2 separate regions of the Homo sapiens genome follow, and region 1 is reported to be linked to region 2. Evidence: microRNA targets listed by miRTarBase, many of them from high-throughput screens and not tested one by one. Region 2 holds a microRNA gene; the other region holds the end of a gene's coding sequence.

Evidence for each region. Region 2 holds the annotated microRNA hsa-miR-377-3p (AUCACACAAAGGCAACUUUUGU, at 1,620-1,641, opposite strand). A microRNA usually pairs through its seed, bases 2 to 8, with sites in the 3' UTR of a target mRNA and lowers its output. Matches are read on the target gene's strand: a 7mer-m8 pairs with bases 2 to 8, a 7mer-A1 pairs with bases 2 to 7 and ends in A, and an 8mer does both.
Region 1: miRTarBase lists ANTXR2 as a target of hsa-miR-377-3p. The part of its 3' UTR that is shown has no 7-base or 8-base seed match.

What each region holds. Positions count from the first base shown.
Region 1 is chr4:79,903,759-79,907,817 of GRCh38, reverse strand. It overlaps ANTXR2 (ANTXR cell adhesion molecule 2), which reads left to right. Exons shown (of 17, transcript NM_058172.6): 17 at 351-4,059. The coding sequence ends at 389. Among named protein-coding and RNA genes, the nearest start is that of PCAT4, 78 kb to the right of the region's middle.
Region 2 is chr14:101,059,666-101,063,734 of GRCh38, reverse strand. It overlaps MIR377 (microRNA 377), which reads right to left and starts at 1,685; the gene lies at 1,617-1,685. It overlaps MIR154 (microRNA 154), which reads right to left and starts at 3,980; the gene lies at 3,897-3,980. MIR496 (microRNA 496) reads right to left here and starts at 3,162; the gene lies at 3,061-3,162.

The sequences.
Region 1 (4,059 bases), not on the chromosome of region 2:
ATATTTTCATTTTAATTCATTACATAAAGAAGTATATTGGGTTGTGGCTTTGATATTTTTATGGCCGTGATAGTAATGCTGTATTTTAGATAATAGTAACATTCTATTTCCATAATTGTTTTTCCATATTAATTATACCATACCATCTCATAGGTGAACTTACTGTGGAAAAGATCTGAATGAACCATCATGCTTTAACCCAAGAAAAAAAAATTATGACTTCATGTCTCAAGTTAACATGGTACTTTCCTTGGGTAATCATTTATTATCATGGTAGGAAAACTAGATGTTCTCATGCTTTTTTAAATAATGGCTTCAATATTTCAATATGGATTTATTTCTTTCTTCAGGGCCGGTGCATAAACTTCTCCCGAGTTCCATCTCAGTAAAAGGGAAGCAGGAAGACCAAGAAGGTACGAAGATGGCACATTTTCACATAGCTGATTTTCAACCAAATGAAAAAAATCAAGTGCATTTCAGAAGCTTTTGGAAGAGCAGCTTAATTCCTCTCAGTCGGGAAATGTTTTCTCTGCCTTCTGCTTTGCTTGCACCAAACATTTCTAAACACTTGTTCTGCCATCTACATGGGAGGTGATGAAACTCAGTGGTAACTCATGATTTATGACATTGAAAATAAAGAGGAACATTGACCTGCAGACTATGGTTTGTACAAGAAAGTTTGTTTGAATGTGTAGAAGAGGAAAAAGCAACAACAGCAACAACACGAAGATGATACCAAAACAAGGACCACAAAACAACTAGCCATGATGGGAGACAGGAGTTTTTTACATGGAAACATGGCACTTGTGTTTTTATGTGGCAAGATCTTTATCCATAGGCAGAGTATGAAATTTCCCACCAGGCTAAGCAAATAAAGAAGTCCATTGCCTTATAGCTATGTCAGATCACAGAATCCTTCCAAGTGCTCTATCACAGTGTGCCTTATGGGAAGTTTCTGACTGGAAAATCTTGTCATTCTAACACTGAAAAGTGCACACGCATGACAAAATGTAGACAAGATGCCTCAAGGTATTGGTAGCAAGCAAGATTTTGCCCTTTAGTTTTCGAAGACACCTTTCTTTCATTATGCACTCGGGACAAGAAAATTAATAGAGCGTTATTCCACAGAAGGCCTCTAGCCAGAGATCTTGAGTGTAGTGCAAGGGACTCATTTTTTGCGAACTTGTCCCTGTGACTAGTAGATTCCCCCTTTTCCTGTGTTTAGGATTTAGTAGTGCATAAAGCATTAATATCCATAAACATACCTAGAAGTTTGTTTTGCTTTTAATTTAAAGGAAGCAGTAACCACAAAGCTTCCGCTCAGGGTTTTTTCTTTCTTCAAGTCTCCAAGGGCTCTTCAGCGTCACAAGCCAGCAACTCTCTTTGCATTAAAATTTCAAAGTTTAATTAATATAATTAAAAGCAACAGCAAGCAGCAGCCTGTGAAGATTTTGCTCATCTTTTTTATGCCTTTTGACATTGAATGACCTATTACTGTATGCGCATTACTTGGATTTTGAGGGGCACTCTACCTTGGTTATGATTCAGTAGAGGAAAAAGACCACCTTTCTTCAATTTACAAATTAAATCTTCTGGAGGGTCGCTATCACAAAACATTGACGATGTATGTATTATAATTTTTTAGAAAAACCACCATCGTGTCACGTCGACGATGCCAAATTATGTTAGCGTGAGCAGAAACACCGTGGGGGAGGAAGGCAGCAGCTGAAGAAAAAAGCTCAAATGATCTAGTCACTTTCGATACTGTACTTCAGATGCGAAATGGATATTCGAGTGGAAACCTGACAAAGTGCGCCTGCTTTGATGTGAACTGGTATAGACAATGACCAGTGGCTGGGTCAGTGGGATGTCTCTCTGTGAGCACAAAGGCTTATCAAATGACACTAAAAATAAGTTCAACAACCATCACATTGGAAGGGAGAAGGCGAACATTTCATGTTTGGCGGGCATGTGAGTGCACAAGATGGAAAGAGCGATTGGAGCATCCTGGTATAATTACCCCCATTGTGCTCTTAATGGAAATTTCAAAGGACGGGAGTATTCTGTTGGTTGGTGTCCAGGTTTGTGGCACTGTTCCAAGAGGCCTTACACACACACACAAATATATAATTTTCTATACATATATATCCTCTAGCTTGAAACTTTTGCTCAAGTTTATTTATGTCACTGGCTGGCTGGATCCAAAGTCATGTGTCCACACATTCATAAATAAAAATTTTACCTATGCCTGTGCTACCATTTCTTTAAGCCCACATAAAGCTAATGCCTTCTTGGGTTGAATATGCAGTTGTTATGCTTAGTTTCAGGGATGGAATTCTATTCAGTTCCAAAATGTCCCTCATGTTCACAGATGATACTATTGGCAGTAGCTGCATATGCAAGTGTAACTTGGAAGCCTGATATAGTATACCCAACCCTTTCTGCAATGAGTTATTGTATCCCTTTGTTCTGCATTTGCATCTGGAACAAGACCTAATGTGGCTTCCTTAAATGGGCACTTCATTTCTGATGAGTGCACACCAATTATTGCTATTTTAATATCATTGAGAATACTACAGAAGCTAAGGCTATGTTTCTTTGGTAACTACTTCAAATTTCTCTAGAATTATGTAGCATACTTACATTTTGCTGCATGAACAATGAAAATTAACCTCTGCCTTTAAATGGAAAAATAACTTTCTGTAGATTGTTATACAGCTACTATGAAGAGCTCTTAATGAAGAGGAAGTGGCAGTGGTCTATATGTAGACTGAAAAAATATCATTAATAAAGTTCAAAGACTGATGGAATTTCATTGCCCTTAAAGATATGAACCAGATCTGTTTTATGCTTTTCTCCAATTATACTAACTAGCAGTTGAAAAGAATTTGTTTTGAAGAGTGTTATTTTCTTACCAAAAGACCAGATCAAAAATCCCTATACTTTTCCACCAAAAAAAGATTAAAATGAAGCCATTTCTATAAATTTAATGGCACTTTATATTTTATATAGAGAAATAGCTTCTGTTTGATTTTCTGGACACCATGTCAGTCAAGATCTACTTTCTGTGTAAAAATGAATAAGTCTTGCACATAATCCATTCGTGTTGCATAAGGTTGCAAAAACAATTAAGTGGGAAATGACTCCTAACTTATGTGTCTACTCTGCCTAGAAAGAAAGTTTTGAAGGCATCTATATATATTTCATAACAATGTCTGTTCTTTATGGATTTGATCCATAAATATTTATCTATCTGAAAACTTTGATACTTGGAATGTTTTCCTTAGAGCATTTGGTGCTCCAAGAAAAAACATTTGGTGCTAAGAGTTGCAGCACTGATGCCTTTCCCTAAGTTAATTCTATTTTAAAAATTTATATTTCCTTCCCAATGAGATGCAGAGTAAAATTTGAGACCCTCCATTGACTAGGGAGCAGCATCTGTCATCTATGGTTAATTACTATTTTGACAAAAATATAGAAGGTTTAAACCCCCATGTATTTCAGATTGTTAGAGAAAGAAGTAGTTTGCTTATATTTCCCTTGAACTTTATTCTAACCATTTAAATAATAAATTATTCAATATTTGTTATAATAAATCCTTACTAGATACAAGATTTGGGTGTTTCTGTGAAGTTAACTTTATTATCTAAATATCACTAACCATTGTTTACTGCTCAGAGGCAGATACATTTGTTTAGTTTAAAGTTGAAACAAATTCTATATTGTGGATAATTAGGTGTTTAAAACATTTTGATAGACCAGCTTATATATGTTATTTTTGAAATTTAAGAAGGCAGAATGTAATTAGGTCACATTTACAAGTAGAAGGAATTATAACTTCCTACTCCATGCATATATTGTATATTGGTTAGCTTTTACTAGCATTTTCTAGCATCACATTACTTTAGAAAGTTTTTGAGAGTTTCATTACTACTGGAAAAGTTTGGTGGGTATATGTACACAGGAAAGAAATATATGCATCATTTCAATATGAAAGGAAATACATAATCTAGAAACATAGAATAACTCTTGGTACATCTGTTACATAGTTAAGGAAAG
Region 2 (4,069 bases):
GAAAGGCTCATGAGAAACGCGAAAGAATGTAATCATTTGTGTATCACCTGTCTGTGACCTGGAAGCTCCCTCCTTCCTGCCTTCGCTTCAAGTTGTCCCACCTTTGCAGACAAAACCAATGTACTTCTTACATGTGCTGAATGATGTCTCATGTCTCCCTAAAATGTATAAAGCCAAGCTGTGCCTTGACCACAGTACTTCCTGAAGCTGTGTTACGGGTGTATCCTCAACCTTGTCAAAATAAACTTTCTAAATTAACTAAGAGCTGTCTCAGATTTTCTGAGTTCACAGAAGCAACTGTCCTGAAAGACCAGACCCCACTGACCGTAGAACTTCTGCTTCCCTCCGGAGTCAGCGTCTCACCCAGAACCCTCCGTGGGGATGGAGGGAGACCAGGTGATGCCTGTCACTTACGTATGAATGCTCTGGGGACAACATGCACCCAGATCCCCGGGAGGACGCCTTACCAGTGTGTCACGCCTGAAGTCAGCACACCTTTCCGGGAAGCTCTCGGGAAGGTTTGGGGCAGCAAGAAAAGATCAACTGCATAAAGGGGGAGACTGTATCCCATTTTTTGACCCTAGGTTCCTACTGACCCCACCAACTCCACTGTAAACACGCACAAATGTAACCACCTTCACAAGAATTGTACCAACACTGATATTCATAGAAACGTGTTTTTCAGAGCCAATGCCATTATACTAATCCAATTCCCTGTTTAGCTTTCCTGACCGCGCTGTTGAGCTGTTTTCATTTCTCTTATTTCCCTTGTTATTTTCCCCAAATCATTTTCATTAGGATCAATTTTTTCCATTTAAAAATCTGCATGAAGATTTGATTCCTCAATGTGTTCTTGTCTACATCAAATATCACTGTTTATCACCGCCGCCACCGTGAATTTCCTTCCATGGCTGCCACGTCGGCAGCTTGCTATTTCCCCAGGTCAAATGTCACAGCTGAAATGTTGTCAAGAAAATTGGATTCCTCTGCCAATTTGTAGTCAACTGAACACATTTAGCACTGTGCCGTTTCAGCTGTTTTTAGTTTTATTTTGTGTTGATTATTTTTATCAGTATTATTTAATACAAATGGGATGAGATACTGATAGCCTCTATTTGTTTCATAACCCAGGAGAAAATTGGGAACAATGTTTGGTTGGGGGATAGAAAGAGAAAGATAGAGACAAGGAAAGGTGCAGAAAGAAGCACAGTGCTTGTGAGCTAGACGGGGGTCTGGGGCTGCAGACTCGTCACAGACCCTGCCAAGTGTGAGCTCTTTGTGTATCCGCGAGGTCAAATACCTTCCGAAAAAAAAATGGTGGAGTCAAAATGTCTTTGGGATCAACACAGCCAAAATGGTGATGTAAAGAGACAGGGTCCAGGGTAAGAGCTAAAGCCGACGCGACACCAACGCCATCCTCCCCGGGCCGCGAGCCCCGCCCCCATCATGAATGAAGCTTGTGTTCTCTGAGCGACATCTGTTCTCATCCACCGCAGAGGACCGCAGAGGGCAGACCACCCACGTCTACCCCGTCCATTCTTGCTCACGGGAGGGGTGTAGATGCCCCTGAGCTTGCCACTGGGTCCCGGAAGCCATCCCAAGCAGGATTTGATACTCAAACAAAAGTTGCCTTTGTGTGATTCAACATAAATAAAGCGAATTCACCAAGGGCAACCTCTGCTCAAGGGTCAAACATCAGCACGGGCAAGAACACACCGAGATGCCTCTTCACCAAAGGCGGCATTGCCTGCGGGACCTCCCTGCTGACTCCAGCTGCAGGCTCGCTGGCTTGCTGGCTCGCTCTCTCCCCTCTTGCTCTCTCTCTCTCTCTACCTCCGAGAAGCCCCCCAGGCAGTGGTCAGAACATGGTTGGTCATGGACCAGCTTCTGTAGCCCTGGAGCAGGCAGTGGGGGCGAGGCTATGCACACACACATCACAGGTCAGCCCGAGCTAGAGTCAGCCCCTGGTCACCTACCCTAGAGGGGCTGGAACACCAAGGTCCACCTCCAGAGCCGGTATCTCCTCTGGAAGTCTCTGAAGCAGGATTTCACACAGAGAAGGGGGCTGCCAATGAACCATGTGACCGTGTTCAGTCCAGCCTACAGGGGTTTGAGGGAGGACCCGACCTGAAGGCTGGCGACTCCTCGTCCAGCGCAGCATCCTCAGAGGGTGGGTGGGGCTGCGTCACAGGGACAGCACAGGCTCAGGTGACTGTACTCCATGCACTCCATTCCAGGAGGCCTCAAAGAGAGTTCAACCAAGAAAACAGGTCACGCTGCCTATTCATTCATTCAGCATCACACCTACTGTGCACATCTGGCGACACAGCACCAGGCAAAACAGACAAGGACTCTGCCCTCAGGGAGCTTCCATTCTAGTGGCGAGAGGACAATGAGTGCAGATGACATAACATTCATATAATGACCATCCTCAGAAACAATGCTTATCCTACAGCCACGTGCCAGACGCTGTCTAGACACTTCACAAAGAGCACGTTTCCACTCCGCTGTTAACCCTGCTTTACAGAGGAAGAGACTGAGGCCCAGAGAGCTGATAGGTGAAGGGATTTTCCAAGGGCACACAGCTGGCAACATAAGGTAGTAATAAATGCTATTAACAATTCTCGTCTTGCAGTAGGAATAACCGAGTCGTGCCATGGAAATGTGTCTTTAAACAACATTAATTCTCACTGCTGAGGAAACCCCCTTCACCCCTTGCTTCCCAGAGGTCACCCAGAAGATAAGGTATTTGAGGGCGTAATGTGGATGTCTTCCATTCAGCCAGGAGTTCCTTTCCCTAAAGTGTGCCACACAGCCAAGATGATTTCACACCTAAAAAGGTTGACTAAATGTGGTTTATTCACTGACGAGTCTTCAAGGATGCGACTAGAAGACCACCATGTCAACTAAAACGTCAGCATCATTTCGGGGAATTCCTCCTAATGATGGCCGGGATATGAGCCAAGTGATGTAAGTCACACAGAGAGCACCTGTCATGCGGAGGTGATCCACTTCCTTACCCTGCGCAGGTGCCGGCTGGGCTTTCCCCTCGTGACGTTTCCCAAGAAGAATTGAGTACCGAAAGGAGATTGGCCATGTAATACTCATCATAAATAAAATGAACACACCATGGACAACCTCCATTCGAGTACCTGACTTGGGTGCTCGCTTCCAGCGCGTCCCAGCAGCAGGCCTGAGGACGGACGGGATACTGAGAGTCAGGAAGGTGGCAACACACCACCCACGAAATAAGCTCTGCGGTCCGGGCCGCACTCCATCCCTTACTTGCAATTAGCACCTCTTGCAGGAAGCCATTCAGGGAGGGAAGTGCCACAGCAGAGAGGTCTGCAGAGCACCATCTGTGATACATGAAGAGAGGGCAGCAGGGAAGACAGCAAGACGGTGTCTTGTCAAACATGCAGTGAGCCGATGAGGGAACTGCCGCCTCTTTCGAGGAAACTGCCATGGTAAGCAAGCAGGACGCCTGCAGGTGCACGACCCACCAAGAAGAGTGTGCACACTGTCAGCTTCGCCGTGCGTTCAGGCATTCAGACACCAGTTCTAGTTCCTAAACTCGGCACCACCCGAGGGTGCTTTAAGGCTAGATTTAATGCTTTCAAAAGAGTCCACTATGTAGGATTGGTCAAAAAATAAATCGAATGCATCATGGAAGACCTCTCCACCAGTACCACAGAGTAGCTCTGATAGGAAAAGCTCCACTTCTTCCCCAAAGGTGGCACCATCTCTAGAAACCTCCCCAAGGACGGGGCACACACAGGGTTAGGGCCAGGGCACACTGCTGGGTCGGCTATGGTCAATGGTCCCCTTCCTTACCCTGGAGAGGAGCTGACACCCTGAAGTAAGACTCCGCTCCAGGAAGCCCTCCAAGGCGGGATTTGGTACTGAAAAATAGGTCAACCGTGTATGATTCGTCACAAATAAAGCGAAGGCAACACGGATAACCTATCTTCAAGTACCACACGCTAGCGCAGACCCAATGTCAATGCCTGTTCTCCAAAGTTGGCCTCCTCCAGGAAGTCCCCCTAGGAGACAGTGAACATTGACGGTT